2 separate regions of the Homo sapiens genome follow, and region 2 is linked to region 1. A link means that fine-mapping ties the variant in region 1 to the expression of a gene that starts in the linked region. Tissue or cell type: whole blood. Region 1 holds a variant in brackets; the other region holds the start of a gene. All regions are shown on one strand. Distances are between the middles of the regions.

What was found. PIP is the estimated chance that this variant, and not a neighbour inherited with it, causes the effect.
Region 2: REG4 starts here. The variant in region 1 is fine-mapped to the expression of REG4 in whole blood (TOPMed, PIP above 0.99).

What each region holds. Positions count from the first base shown.
Region 1 is chr1:120,374,729-120,383,165 of GRCh38, forward strand. No RefSeq gene overlaps it. Among named protein-coding and RNA genes, the nearest start is that of NBPF8, 36 kb to the right of the region's middle. The variant C/G (reference allele first, on the strand shown) is at 4,738.
Region 2 is chr1:119,808,137-119,816,359 of GRCh38, forward strand. It overlaps REG4 (regenerating family member 4), which reads right to left and starts at 3,324. Exons shown (of 6, transcript NM_032044.4): 1 at 3,273-3,324; 2 at 567-727. The coding sequence starts at 633.

The DNA.
Region 1 (8,437 bases):
GCTGACTTTTACAGCCTGTGTATACAACTACCTCTACAGAAAATTTTAAGATATATATTAGTTATTTATATTCACACAATAACTTTGCAAATAGTCCTAGTGTACAAAGCTTATTCCTATATCTTGCTGTGTTTTTAAACAAACATATATACATATATGCTGTGATAGCTGATGTTGAGTGTCAACCTGATTGGATTGAAGGATGCAAAGTATTGTTCCTGGGCATATCTGTGAGGGTGTTGCCAAAGGAGATTAACATTTAAGTCAGTGGATTGGGAGAGGCAGACCCTCCTTCTATCTGGGTGGGCACCATCTAATCAGCTGTCAGCACAGCTAGAATAAAGCAGGCAGAAGAAGATGGAAGAACAGACTTGCTGAGTCTTCTGGCTTTCATCTTTCTCCTGTGCTGGAAGCATCCTGGTCTCGAACATCAGACTCCAAATTCTTCAGCTTTTAGACTCTTGGACTTACACCAGTGATTTTTCAGGGGCTCTCGGGCCTTTGGCCACAGACTGAAGACTGCATTGTTTACTTCCCAACTTTCGAGGTTTTGGGACTCAGACTGATGCACCACTGGCTTCCTTGCTCCTCAACGTGCAGATGGCCTATCATGGGAATTTATCTTGTAATCATGTGAGTTGATTCTCTTTAATAAACCCCCTTTTATATGTACATCTATTCTATCAGTTCTGTCCCTCTAGAGAACCCTGACTAATACACATGCATACACACATGTGGTCATGCAGACATGTATACATGCATGCACACATATGTGACCACATGAACATGCATACACATATGTGATCTTTGCCATTGTGGATGGCTAGGATGATTTTTCTCAGGAAAGGTATCTGTGTTATTAGAAAAATAGCCCTGGTTCTCATCCTAAAGTCATAAAAATCAGGAGGTAACTCAGTAAAAGGAGACACACACACACACACAATGTTATATGTATAAGTGATTTAATATTTTATATATATAATCAAATCCTTGAAATTGCCCTTTGTATTAATCAGGGTTCTTTATAGAAACAGAATCAAGAGTATGTGTGTGCGTGTGCGCGCATGTGTGTGTGTGTGTGTATATATATACACATATATATTTAATACGTGTGTGTGTGTGTATATATATATATATAGACAGAGAGAGAGGGAAAGAAGGAGAGAGAGGGAGTTTATTATAAGAAATTGGCTCATGTGATTATGGGGGCTGAAAGTCTCACAATCTGCCATCTGCAGCTGGAGACCCAGGAAAGGCAGTGATGTAGTTGAGAGAACCAAAGTATCGATGGTATAAGACCCAGTCAAGAACAGCACAGGGGGCTGATGTGTCAGCTCAAGCAGTTAGGCAGAGGGTGAAGTCACCCTTCCTGTGCTTTCTGTTCTATTCGGGTCTCAATGAATCGGATAATGCCCATTCACATGGTGGAGGGCCACCTGCTTTACTCAGTCTGCTGATTCAAACGCTAATCTCATACAGAAACAGCCTCACAGCCATAACCAGGACCCATGTTTAGTCTGGGCACCTCATGTCTAAGTGAATTTGACACAAAAATTATCCATCATACCCAGAGTTCTTAATCAAAGTTTCAATGACTGAGGCCAGTCCTGGGCCGCTAATGTTCATCCAATATTGCGTCTAGTTTTACCATCCCTTCCGTTTGCCAGAAATAGAAACAGAAAATGTTCTACATGTTTGCACCACCAAATAATGAATAAGCAATCAAATGCCATTTTGATTATTGACCTTCTAGCTTTTACAAAACACAAAACTTGCACAAATAAAGATACTATTGGAAGCCAAGGAACCTAGAGACACATGTAAATTCTCTTTATCTCTGCTCGATGCGTAAAGTATTCCTACTTAAGAGTAAATTTCCTCTTGTTTCAGTGAAAGATATTTTTAACTGATATTTTTACCTTCAGCAAACACATAAACGGTGAAAGTTATCCCAAACATTGCCATTTTCAATTTCCAAAGGAGCTTATGCTAATTTCAGAGGCATCTCTATGGTTTATATGTATATTTAATATATAAGGCAGGTCCTACTATCTCTATTTTACAGAAGAAGAAACTGAAGTTGGAAAGATCAACAAGCTTACCTGAAGTCACAGGGCGGGAGAGTAAAGGAGCAGAATTTTCAACCTAAGTTTATATGATTCTAAAATTTTCCACTACCATGCTACTAAAAGAAATTACTCAACTAGTTCTTCCTGTTCAGGTAAGTCAGTTCAGACTTTGCTAATTCTGAATAAAGGGGACAGAAGTTATGATGCTGTAACTATTTGACATAGACTGTGTTAGATTAGAGATGAGAGGCAAAAATCTGACCCTAGTATATTTGCTTTCATTGATTCCAATGTCATCTTTAGGTTTTTGTATATTTCTTTCTGATTTTAACATATGATCCTTTATTTTCTTCTTACTTTCCTCCCTTCCTCCTCTCTCTGTCAAATTGTTTTCCTCTTCCTCCTCTTTTAAAAATTCTCAAAATTTGACTATAAATTGCTTTTTCTTCTTTGCTCCTTTTCACAACTCTTTCATTGCCACAAGGCATTCAGGTAGAAAAAAAGGCCAAGGTAGTCTGCAGTGTGCTAGCTATTTACCCAATTGACCCACCATATCTTTTACATAAGCAAATAAATTAACAAGTTATGTAAATAATTTATATTCAAATATTCAGAAATGTCTTAGACATGTTTAACATGCTACCAGTAAACTCCTTTTAGGAGGAGACCACATGCAGCTTTAGAATAGAAAATAGAAGAAAGGAAAAAAATAAACAAATGAAGGTTTTTCTCTGCAGTCTTTATGCAAGCAACGACTTATTTCTTAAACTCTCCCCTTTGTGGCTATCACTCAAAGAAAATAAAGAAGAAAAGCTACTGGCTTTCTAGTTTAAATCACAGTCTCATTATTCTGTAGGTGAATGGGGAGGGGGATTGGAATCGTAGGTCCGAGTGGGCAGTAACTTGAAGTCAATGGAGATATTTACAAAACAGAAGCACAATCACGATCCAGCAGTTCTGGAGCTGCTAACTTTTTCTGCCTTTTTCTAAATGTCCAATAATAAGGTTCTAATGGAGACTGAAGATCCATCACCTGCTCCACATCTCCAGGGGGCCCATGTGTGCATCGCAGTGCAGATCATACATGCTTCTTTCCCCTCCCATGGCAAGGGGAATACTGAATGATGACAGCTCACATGTGTAACCCAAGGGCTTTGCTTGGGTTTGCAAGGACTAGTGCACAATACATTCTTTGACTGTTATAATAACATTAAGTCAATGCACGAATTATAATCCCTATTTCACAAGTACAAAAACACATTCAAAGAAATTAACTTCCTTGCTCACCAAACAGTTATTGACAAAAATTACAATATTTATGTTTCTTTTGAAAAATATTATAAAGATTCTCAAATTGTCTAACCAATCATATTATCCGTATTTGTCTCTTCTCAAGCTGCTAATAAAGACATACCCAAGACTGGGACATTTATAAAGGAAAAAGGTTGAATTGACTCACAGTTCGGCATGGCTGTGGAGGCCTCAGGACACTTACAATCATGGTAGAAGGGGAAGCAAATATGTCCTTCTTCACATGGCGGCAGCAAAGAGAGGTGGGAAAAAGGAGGGAAAAGCCCCTTATAAAACCATCAGATCTCATGAAAACTCACTTACTATCAGGAGAACAGCATGGAGGTAACTGCTCCCATGATAAAATCACCTTCCACCAGGTCCCTCCCATGTCAGGTGGGGATTATGGGAACTACAGCTCAAGATGAGATTTGGGTGGAGACGTAGCCAAACATATCGTTATCTTGATAAGATATTGCTTTGGATTGAATTGTGTCCCTGCAAAAATCTTATGTATAAAAGTTCTGATCCCTGATGTGACTGTTTTTGAAGACAGGCAGGGCCTTTAGTAGGCACTTAAGGTCAAATTAGGTCATACGGGTGGGACCTCAGTCTACTAGGACTGGTGGCTTTATACTGAAAGAAAGAGACAGATGTCTCTCCCCTCGACCTCACATGTATAAAGGTCACATAAGGAAAAAGCAGCCCAAGCCGGTAAGAGGCCCCAACAGACGCCAAACCCTTCCAGCTTCATGATCTTGGACTTCACTGCCCCCAAAACTGTAAGAGAATGAAATTCTGCTGCTTATGCCATCCAGTCTGTGGCATTTAGTTACGCCAGCCTGCACTGGCTAATGCAGATATTCAGAATCAAATGAGTCATCCCAAGCAATTTCTCAGTATATACAGCACAGATTTCACCTTCTAAACTCACCCTTGTCTTCGCCTTTTTTTTTTTTTTTTGCGACGGAGTCTCACTCTATCGCCCAGGCTGGAGTGCAGTGGCGCGATCTCGGCTCACTGCAAGCTCCGCCTCTCGGGTTCACGCCATTCTCCTGCCTGAGCGTCCCGAGTAGCTGGGACTACAGGCGCCCGCCACCACGCCTGACTAGTTTTTTTTTTTTAATATTTATATTTTTAGTAGAGATGGGGTTTCACCGTGTTAGCCAGGATGGTCTCAATCTGCTGACCTCGTGATCCGCCCGCCTCGGCCTCCCAAAGTGCTGGGACTACAGGCATGAGCCACCACGCCTGGCCAGTTTTTCTTAATTATTAAATAATCTTTCATTGATTTAAGAAATATTTTCTTATGGTTCCTATTCAGGCCCAGGCATTGTTTTTTTGTGCTGCAGACAATGTGTTAATAAAAGCTGTCCAG[C/G]CTTGTTAGTACATCATGATATTTATATCTGACAAATCCTCTACTTAGATATGTATCACCTCCATAATTTTTTGGAACACATAAATTTTTTGAACCAAATGGAATAAAAAGCTAGATATATACGTATAATGAATATATTTGAAACTTTGTACTTTGCTTTACAATTTGCAAAAGAACATCATATACAGTGTTGTATTTGAGTCTCCCTTAAGCCCTATTAAGAAGAAATTTTTCTATTTCTGCTGTTCAGTGAAGAAAATGAGCAAAAAAGGTGCAGCAACTTCCCAATATCCCATATTTACAAACATAAAGGAGTGGGACTTTAATGTAGACTCTTGGTGTCCACGTTTGTGCTCTTTATGCTTCATGACACCAGGTAAAGTGCAATGAGCACAGCAAATGTGCCCCCTCAGGAGCCAGCTAAGACCTTCCGGGGGCTTCTCCTGGAAGTACAGAGTCTGCGACCCCCATCCTAAATACACAAGCATTGGCATCACTGTCTCACAGTAAAACAAAACAAAACAAAACAAAAAAACAAAAAAAAACAAAGAAAAAAACAAATACAATCTGTTCAGCAGAGTAATTGTACATAACACAAAAGAACTTCTGGGAAAAACACGGAACGCATATTGAAGTCAGAGGCTCAGTCATGTGAAAATAAAAGGTCTTGTTGGGTGCCTAAGTCTTGTCTTTGCTAACAGCTGTTTTCGTGCAATACCAGTAAACCCAGCCAAAGGCATTCTAGTGAGCAACACAGGAAGACTCCTATACACTTCAATTTTCCAGCAATCCATAAAATTGAAACATAAAAATAGGATTCTATTTCCCTTGTTCATTCTATATCTTACCAGTACTTATATTTGCATATGTGTAGAAACTCAAGGTTTACAAAGCATATCCACGGTCTTTATTGTATTTGATGCTCCACAAAATGTTGCAAGGGACTCAGACAAAGTCTTGTTTGTACTATGTTACAGGTGAGAATGCTGACATGTAGAGGGGCAAGTACTTACCTGATCACGTTGTCTTAGTATGATGAAGCCTCACTTAAACCCATGATCTCATGTCTACCCTTAAACTGATGCACTGAAATACAGTCAGGTAAAATAAAGAGTTAGGGGCACATTTTAAAATACATTTAAGGTGCATCAAAGATTTAAACCAATCACTTGTAACATCTCTATTTGTCAAACTCATTGGTGATCATTAGCATCTAGAGAGACCCAGGACAATCGCAAGATTCTAAATAATTTTCAAACCATAGTAGAGGATACTTTGTTTACTGTTATTTATGTATTAAATATCTTTTAATATACTATAGCTTTATAAGAACAGATAATCCATTTTTGGAATTTGTGTTTTAATTGGCCAAAGAGTTAAATCCATTTTTTCTAGATCCTCTGGATAATTAGGAATCGGTAGTAAAAAGCAATTGCACTTTTCCAATAAAATAATATGCTCAGTTGTTCAAACCCACATTCTTGATAAAAACAACTAGAAATTCTGCATAAGATAGAAGAAAAAGAAGATTTTGGAGCAACAAAGAGCATACAAGATGGTAAGGAATTACAAGACCAAAATCTAAGTGATGTCTTGATCTCAGAAAAGAAAGCTAAATGTTGAATTCCATTTGGCCCTTGGAGAATTCATGAAAGCAGTGAATTTGAGCTTCAGTTTTTCAGTCTCTGTGGAGTGATATGGAAGAAGGAAAAAATCTCAAGTCCCCAGCAACATGCATGTGATAATAGAAGACTTTCCCCCTATGAAACAAGACCTCCAAAGAGCTATAATTTCACAATAAGCATAAACCAAAAGTAAACCCACACTACCTCACTCCTTCTTCCATGTGTCGGCAAGGAAGTGTTCGTTGGTGCTAAACAAAGCATGGGGAAAATGCTGCTGTTGCATAAATTACAATCTCAAAAACTCAAGCTATAAATTTAGTTTAAAACAGTTCACAATACCTAATAGAAACAAATGTGCAGTTCTTCCTCATCCTGAAAGAATCTCCACAATAATATTCCAAGGAAAATAATGCACTCACAGCGTATGTATGTATCACCTATATGATGAATATAGCTGATAGATAAGTACATATGTATCATATATATATATACATATAACCATTACAGAGAACTAGAAGAAATAGTGGAGAAAGAAACAGTTCTACAAAGACCCTAGATTTAAAAATAATCAGAGAAAAATGTTGTAAAACAACTCTTCTCATAACGTCCAAAGCTAGAACACACTTGAAACAATCTCAGCAAAAGAAAGCTGTCAAATATGCAGCCATAAAAAAGGATGAGTTCATGTCCTTTGTAGGGACATAGATGAAGCTGGAAACCATCATTCTCAGCAAACTATCGCAAGGACAGAAAACCAAACACGGCATGTTCTTACTCATAGGTGGGTACTGAACAATGAGAACACTTGGACACAGAAAGGGGAACATCACACACCACGAGCTGTCGTTGGGTAGGGGGAGGGGGGAGGGATACCATTAGGAGATATACCTAATGTAAATGACAAGTTAATGGGTGCAGCACGACAACATGGCACATGTATACATATGTAACAAATCTGCACGTTGTGCACATGTACCCTAGAACTTAAAGTATAATAATAATAATAATAACAATAATAATAAAAGAAAGCTGTTAAAAATGACCAGCATAGAATCTCTCTTCCCCACTGTCAGACAACATTTCAGTGGTCCCTGTAACTATTGCTCTGGTCCTGAATAAAATCTTTCTTGCCATGCTTGAAAAAAAAAAAAACAGAATTGCAAAATATGTCTCTGACAAAGGACTAATATCAAGAATCTACAAGGACCTCAAAGAATTCAAGAAGAGAAAAAGAAACAACCCCATTAAAAACTGGGCAAAGGACATGAACAGACATTTTTCAAAAAAAAAAAAAATGCAAGCAGCCAACAAACACATGAAAAAATGCTCAGAATCACTAATCATTAAAGAAATGCTCATTAAAACCACAATGAGATATCATCTTATATCAGTCAGAATGGCTGTTATTAAAAAGTTGAAAAAAGAAAAAAACAGAGGTTGACTTGGATGCAGAGCAAAGAGAGAACGCTTATACACTATTGGTGGGAATATAAATTAGTTCAAGCTCTATGGAAAACAGTATGAAGATATCTCAAAGAACTGAAAACAGAACTACCCTTTGACCCAGAAATATTCATAACTGGACACCTACCCAAAGGAAAACAAATCATTATAGGACAATACCATGACAATAGCAAAGTCACGGAACCAACCTAAGTCTAACCTATGGGTCCATCAATAATTGATTGGATAAAGAAAATGTGATATATATACACATCATGTAATACTACACCACCATAAAAAAGAATGAAATCATGTCCTTTGAAGCAACATGGATGGAGGTGTAGAACATTATTCTAAGTGAATTAACTCAGAAACAGAAAATAAAATACTGCATATTCTCACCTACAAGTGGAAGCTAAACAATTGGTACACATGGACATAAAGATGGAAATAATAGACACTGAGGTTTCCCAAAGGGGAGAGGATGTGAGTGTTGAAAAACTACCTATTAGGTACAATATTCATTATTTGGGTAATGGGTGAACTAGAAGCCCAATCCCCACCAGTATGCAATATACCCATTTAACAAACATTCACATGGACCCCTTGAATCTAAAATAAAATAAATATTT
Region 2 (8,223 bases), 570 kb before region 1:
TTCTGGTATTCTGTGACATTTCTTCTTAGCTCACTCGTACACTGTTCCTCCCCTGCTTTCTCTATTGGTGGATTCTACAATATTGCTACCCACTTTGTTGCCATGTTACTTTGCACTTGATGTGTGATCTATAAATGTATAAGCGCCATCTCTCTAACTAGATTGTAGGTACCTTGCAAACTGGAATCCCTAATAATGCTCAAAATGATAAACCAGTGCATAAGCATTGGGGAATTCTAATTATGGCTATGACTTATTGACAATCTGCTAGGCAACAGGTGTTTCAAACACATTATCTCTGCCCTTCACAATAAACTTGCCAAATTAATATTATAACTTACCCTTAACTGATGATTTAAGTATGGGTTATAATCATATGGAATTGAGTTTTGTTGGATTCTAGAGCCCTTGAATTTTTTAGTACCTATCTTTGTTTTTCATCTCCATGTTTAAAAACCTATTTCCTGCAGTTCCTAAATGTTTTTGTGGGCAAATGGATGACTGTCTCACATGGGCTGTGTGAACACTGGCTGTGGCTCAGTTCCAGCTACGTGATGGATACTCACCACCCAGGACTCCTGTTTTGGCCAGGCAGCTCAGCAATAGGAGCAGCCGCATGCTTCTGGAAGCCATCTTCCTCCTACCCTGAGGATGTAGCTAGTGCAAGGATCTCAGAGACCTTACTAGCGCTTCTTTGAAACTCCTGGGTTCTCCTTGATCTGCAAATCTGAACACATTTGCACAGGTGAGAAGGACCCAGGAATCTAGATGCCAACTAATACATATGGAGGAAAATAATACAATATTTTCCTGGCTAAATCCAGACTTTATAATGAAGGGAATCTCAAGTTAGATGTACAGGTTAGAAAATTTTAAGAGATTTTGTTCTTACCTGCAAGACCTCCTGGGCCAGTGCCAGAGATCTAACTATAGCAGGCTGAACAGTTTCATAGTCTGCATGGAGGCAATTTGTAAACCACCGAGCACTCGCCCCTGTTAGCTTCAGGAGGGCCAGCAGAGGGCGCCCAAGGCAAGCTTCCTCACAGGTAAGACGGATATGGGCATTCTGTTGTCAAGAAAATCCAATAGAATGGCTCCGACATTGAATTTTTAAATGTTAAAATTAAACGTGAGCACAGTGTCCAATACCCACATTTTACAGATGAGAAAACCTGAGGTCAGTAAGTATGAAGTCATTTGTTCATGGACACCAGCTATAAGCAGATCTGACTCCATCAGCACTCTTTCCTTTACACTTAGTTGACATCATTTTTAAAAATAAAGAACATGGCTTTATCTTTTCCCCATTAGCAAACAACACATGAGCTATTAGAAAATCAATGCAAAACTAGAAAATAAGAAGTAAATCCCATCTCCAGGAGATAATTTGGTGAGTAGCCTACAGATATCTTTCTATGCACCTCTCTCTGTGTACAATTTTATAAAAATAAGATCATATAGTCCTATAGCCTGGTTTTGTTTCTCAGAAACAGATTAATTGTAATACATTGTCTTGCACTCACATAACTTTCATGCATTTTTTATTTTTTCTTTAGTATAAATTCTCATATATAGGGTTGTGGCATCACACAACATGCACATTGTCATTTTAATACCCTTTGTTAAAATGTATGGGCTGTGATATTTACCTCATTAATAGGGCACTAAAAGGATTGGTTCCCTAAGCTCCCAGAGAATGCTTAATTTTGTCAAGTTTTTGGCTAATTTTGGTATATTAAAGAAGAACCTTAGTGTTTTAAAATATTTTATAATTACTAATGAAGTTGAACATCTTTTTATATAATGATTTGCTTTTAGTATTTGGTGAATTTTCATTTTACAGTTTTGCACATTTTTCTATTTCATTGTTTGTGAGATCTTTTTTGTATGTTTATTTGTGAGATCTTTTTTGTATGTTTATTGCCTTTCACGTGTTACTAATAGTATTTCTCAGTTTGTATTTTTCTCTTACTTATTATAATTTTTGCCATTCTGAAATTTTCAAAAATATTGTTATTTTTTATGTTTTTAAAAATAATTTTTAAATTTATATCAAAAGACTGGCCATTACTGTCACATAAGGTTAAAATATTTATCACTGTTCTATTTTCATCTGTCTGGGCTTTGTTTTAACATAAGTATGAAACTGAGTTCTGGATTTCCCTCCCAAATAATTCTTAAAATGAGTTAATTCATTGAATTCACATTTAATCATACTTTATGATTAAAAAATCTGAATATACAATCTAACTCTCAAATAATGGATTGCTTAAAGAGAATAATGTAAATGATGACTTTTCTGGAAAATCAATTCTGGGGTCCATCTGAACACTTTAAGGCAACATTAACTGAGAATGAGACAAAGCTTGGAGAGTGTGGATGTGACCTTCCCCACCCCTTACTTCTTTTTAAATCATTGCGTGAACCTTGCACTTTGCTAAACTTTCCTTCCAAAAGTAATAGTGTATTTTCAATGTCCTCAAACCCCTTTAAAACGCAAACAGAATTTCTCTGTCAAGGTGACCATCTGGGGGAAGGGAGAGGCAGCATCTTTTTTACTAATCTGTGAATAATTTTTAGTGAACTGATATTCATTGAATGTCTGCATGTCATGTTCATAAGTAAGCTGCACTGGGCCGGGTGTGGTGGCTCATGGCTGAAATCCCAGCACTTTGAGAGGCTGAGGCAGGTGGATCACCTGAGGTCAGGAGTTCAAGACCAGCCTGGCCAACATGGCACAACCCTGTCTCTATTAAAAAATACAAAAATTAGCTGGGCGTGGTGGCAAGTGCCTGTAATCACAGCTACTCAGGAGGCTGAGGCAGGAGAATCACTTGAACCTGGGAGGCAGAAGTTGCAGTGAGCCAAGATTGCACCATTGCTCTCCAGCCTGGGAGACAGAGCAAGACTCCATAAAAAAACAAAAACAAAAACAAAAACAGAAACAAAAACAAAAAACCTGCACTGTAGATCTCATGAATGCATGTTACAAATGAAGACACTGACACTTATGATTGAGTAACTTTTCTAAAGTTTCCCAGCTACCAGACTGCAGAGCCAAGATTTAACCCAACAGCTTGACACCAAAGCCAATGCTCTTTGCAGTGAAGGAAGAAAAGAAGGTAAATAATTTAAATCAAACAACACAGCAACAGAAAGCCTGACAAGCCTCACTAGAAATACAATTTGTCATTTCTGGCCTGGCTAATAGCTGACAGAGGAAAACAGATGTTTAAAGAAAGTCCCCCATCATCAACCGCGAGGAGGATTACCTGTTTGGCAACCAAGACTCTAAGGGCCCCTGCCTTCTTCAGTGTCTCCAGTGGTCCCAGTCAACGTTTCTGGAGCTTTTATATCTTCTTGCCTCAGGAATTAATAATCTTTACTTTAGTCACAAAGCGATAATATTATTTGAGAAAAACAATCCATCCATAAAAGTCTTATCTACAGTGAAAAAAATGAATCATATAAGAGACGGCTTCAGAATGTACGTAAGGTGTGCTTTGACTAGCCAGGAAAAGAACCTCTCCCTGTGTGCAAACAGAATCTTTTCTTCACATCACGTTATTAAAACTGACAACATCCTGTAATCTGTTATAAGCCCATCTTCCTCTCCCCTTATGTTACTTTTTCATGGCTGTCTTTTTATGCCTTGGTATGGTGGATTTCCTTTATTTCTCTTTTATTTCTAGAAGGATTTTCTGTCAGGGTCAGGAATAGGTTATGACCCATGCGGTGAGACTTGAGACCCACACACAGATTTTCCTTCCTAAAGCACCGACTCCACTCCTTCAACATGCGTGAGTTTCCTCAGAGATCTACTATTTGAGCTTCTCCCGCAGAACATGGATGATCATGTCAAAATAGCTTACATCAACAGAGTGTGTTACAATAACGGGTTTTCAGTGAAGTCATCAAATAAGATGCCAACAAAATCCTTGTGAGCAGCATAGGACACATATCCCCATTACACACTCAAGAAACCCAACCTTAAGAGAGATTAGAAACCTTCCGAGGTTCACAACACTGGTCAGCAGTGGACCTGGACACTGAACCTTGTCCTTCTGACTCCAAATATAGGTGTTTGCCAAAATACAGTTCTACTGAAAAATAGGCTATTTGAAAAGAGTAACAAGATTTTCTTTTCCAGTATAGATGGCAAAGGGTTAGGTTGTAGGTGCCAGAGATGACTCAACTTTAAACTACAGATTTAAGTCTGTAAAGGACCTTTATGTCTGGAAACTTTAAGTCTGGAAGGGACCATAGTAGTTATCAAATCTTACTCTTTTGTTCTACTGGTGAGGAAATTGAGGCCTAGAGAAACATTGTGACTAGTTTAATGCACAGACAGTTGTGGGTGAAGCTGATATCAGAAGCCAGCTTCCTTGCTCCCAGCTCACTGTTGTTTGGAAAATGCTACTCAACCTTTGTTATTAGATTTTTGCATCAGTTGTGTAAATTCATGGTAGGACATGAGAAAGTAATGCTTTCATGGTTCACAAAGAACATTTTAAAGAATCTCTCCCATCAGAATGTTTGACACAAACCTCTTTCTCTTTAGGCAGCTGGATGGGAATCATCATTGCTTCATGGCACAATGGCGTACAAAGATGTTAACTCCAAGCCTTTCAATTTCAGAAGTCCTGGTCCAGATGTAAGACAGAAAAGTTTTAACAAAATGGGTGATTAGATAGATCTCCTGTGTTTCCAGCAGCCATCCCAACCCTTAGTCTGCTATCCCCATGCCATTATCCAGATTTAAAGACTTGAGATGAGAGAGAAGAGAGTAGAACAGATTAGAAAACAAGATGTTCATAGGACTTTTAAGAGGTCTCTTACTGAACCCTCACATTGACTAGCTCCAAATTAAGGCATTGATAGGACTCACATAAACCTTTGAGATGTAAGAATGTAAAGGACCAGAAAATTGTCTGAATCAAAAAGGTCCACTGAATAGTAAGTTTATTTAAAAAAAAAAAGTCTACATATAAACACCTCATACATGAAATGGTCAAAGTGAGAATCCTAAAAGCCCCAAATCAGCAATGATCACCTTCAAAGTGACAAGGATGGGGATGGCACCATAATGGAGAGATAAAGTGGAAGCCAGGCAGCTTTCGAATAGTAGCTTTATTTATTTATTTATTATTTTTAATTTCAATAGGTTTTTGGGGAACAGGTGGTGTTTGGTTACATGATAAGTTCTTTAGCGGTGATTTCTGAGATTTTGGGGCACCCATCATCCAAGCGGTGTATACTATACCCAACGTGTAGCCTTTTATCTCCTGCCACCCCCCACCCTTTCGCCCGAGTCCCCAAAGTCCAGTGGATCGTTCTTGTGCCTTTGCATCCTCATAACTCCCACATATGACTGAAAACATCAGTGTTTGGTTTTCCATTCCTGAGTTACTTCACTTAGAATAATAGTCTCCAATTCCATCCAGGTTGCTGTGAATGCCATTATTTCATTCCTTTTTATGGCTCGGTAGTATGGAACACTAGCTTTAAAGTGCAAAGGAAAACAACTTTCAACCTGGAATTCTGTACCCAGCTAACCAACCATTAAGGGTGAGTATGACAAAAAGATATGTTAAAGTTATGAGAACGTAGTAAGATTGCTATCCATAGACTCATTGAAATTACTGCTTAAGCGTGTCCTTTGTCAAAAAATAAAATAATCCCAGAAGATGTGTTACAATAAAGAAATGTGTTGACTGTATTAGTTATAATAATGTTTAAAATAAAATTAATAGTAACTTTATTTCATTTTTAATATAAGTAGGAACAAAAATACCAGACAATAACAAACGAGATTAAAGAGAGTTAGGAATGAAGTTAAAATATTCTAAGATCTGATCATGATTAAATTGAGACTTCATTAGAAAATATTAATTTAAGTATATGTATTATCAGAGTACTTTTTTGATAATGCAAACTTGATGTTGCTGCACTTATGATGAAATATTACAATTGAGCCCCACATTCACCAAGACTTTCAGTATAGCAGGAAAATCTTTCTGAGTCGTACACCTTCATATCACTCTTGCCTCCAGCACTAATACTCCATCCAGTCAAATCTGTGCCCATCAACACCACATGTTGGTACTCCCTGGAACAACCCCATTCAAGGTCACACCTCCATGCCTTTTTTCATGTCATTCCTCTGCTTGCAATGCCCTTTTTCTCATTCCTTGTTTGGGTGTGTTTATTCATCTTTTAATTAGTTCATTCAATAAATATTGAATGTGATTAAGTGCAAGAATCTGGGTATATGGGTGTAGGTGTGGTAGGGAAGGGGACAGGAGGTGATAAAAAGTTGAAGAACAGCCATCTGGTTTCTGTCCTGCAGGATCTTGCCACAATGACAGCTTGGTTTGGTTTACAGCATTGCTTTGGAGGCTTTTCCTTATTCTACTCTCTGACAGCAGAGATGCCTTCCATTGTGCTCACATACCCCAGGCTCGGCACTTAAAGTCTCTATTTTCTGGTTGGCTACCTATATTTCACTAAGCTACTTCAGGTCAGGGATCACATCTCCTTCCTCTCTCTCACCTTATGTTCAGCAATTTTTAGTAGCGAAACTAACCAGCAATCCAAAGAAGAGTAATTGCTTCAAAATCTGCCTCTTTTCTTCTTAGGTATTTCCATCTAGAGGTTCTAGGGAACAAGCAAGCTCACTCATATCTTTCTTTTTCCCACAGAGGAAAACTTCACTTTTTTTTTTTCTCTTTTGAGATGAGTCTGGCTCTGTTGCCCAGGCTGGAGTACAGTGGTGTGATCTCAGCTCTATGCAGCCTCCATCTCCCAGGTTCAAGTGATTCTCCTGCCTCAGCATCCCAAATGACTGGGATTATAGGTGCCCATCACCAAGCCCAGCTAATTTTTGTACTTTTAGCAAAGATGGGGTTTCACCATATTGGTCAGGCTGGTATGGAACTCCTGACCTCAGGCGATCCACCCGCCTGGGCTTCCCAAAGTGCTGGGATTACAGGCATGAACCACTGCACCCAGCCCAGGAAAACTTCACTGAACATATTTTTGGAGAAGACATTCACTTCTTTGTCAGGGAGAAAAGCCTTATTTCCTCTCTTGGAAGAATTCATGCTCTAAGCCCACTTGAAACAATTAAACTTCATCTATGTGGTGATTTAACTTGGCTTCCTAAAAGACTCCAAATGGAAACCTGTGCATTAGTACATCCCTATAGGTAGATAGTACATTTCTCAAAAGTGGCATGTGATTAAACATGCTTAGATAAAAGTGAATATTCTGATAAAAAATTAAAATGTGATCTCTCTCCATAAGTCCACAGATATTCAGTAAGCTCTCATCAGTTTGTGACATGCTGGTACAGCTGTCTAACAGAATTCCCTAAGATAATGGATGTATTCTAATCTGTGGTTTCAGTGAGGTAGTCACTAGCCACATATGGCTATCAAGCACTCAAAATACGATGACTAAGAATGTGGAATTGAATTGTGAGCTTCATTTAATTCCAATTAGTTAAACTTAAGTTTAAACAGCTATGTGTGGCTAGTGGCTACCATATTGTACAGCACAAACCAAGAAGATGGGGGCGAATATTTTTGTGGAAACAAGTTGATGTGGAAGAAAAGATGAATCGTTCCTGTTTGCAGGGAAGCTTAGAGACAGAGGGAAACTCGTGGAAGTAAGTTCTGAGTACTGAAGGAATTGTGGGGAGTTTGGGGGAAAGCTATAGAACTTGCATTTGAGCCAAATGTAATTAGGTCACCAAGCAGGAGTGTCTCAGCTGACACCTAGGGTACATTTTAGAAAGAAATCTTTGTCCTTCTCTGCGATGTGATAGACTGAGTCTGGTGTTCTTTTGTCACATCTGCAGCACATTTTTCGTTCTCTTCTTTCCCTAGTTGAAGCTTGGATGCGATTCCTTTCCCTTCCTCTTCAAATGACTGATGAACTTCATCCTGAGTCGAATAGTGGAGCTTCTCAGTATTTCTTCATTTGAGGTCGAGGGTAAATTGCCTATAGTTTCAGTCTGACAGCTACTCACTTAGGACCCATTTTAACTAATGAACAGTTTCTGTTTTACTAGTAGTTGATAACTGTCAGAAGTTTTTTGAAAGGGTCGAAAGAAGAACCCCAGCCAGATGGGCAGCAGTGTGGAAAATATAGATTGAAATGGCGTTAGAAAGAGGTCAAAGAAGGTGTATTTTGGGGGAATGTAAAAAAATGAAGTCTGGT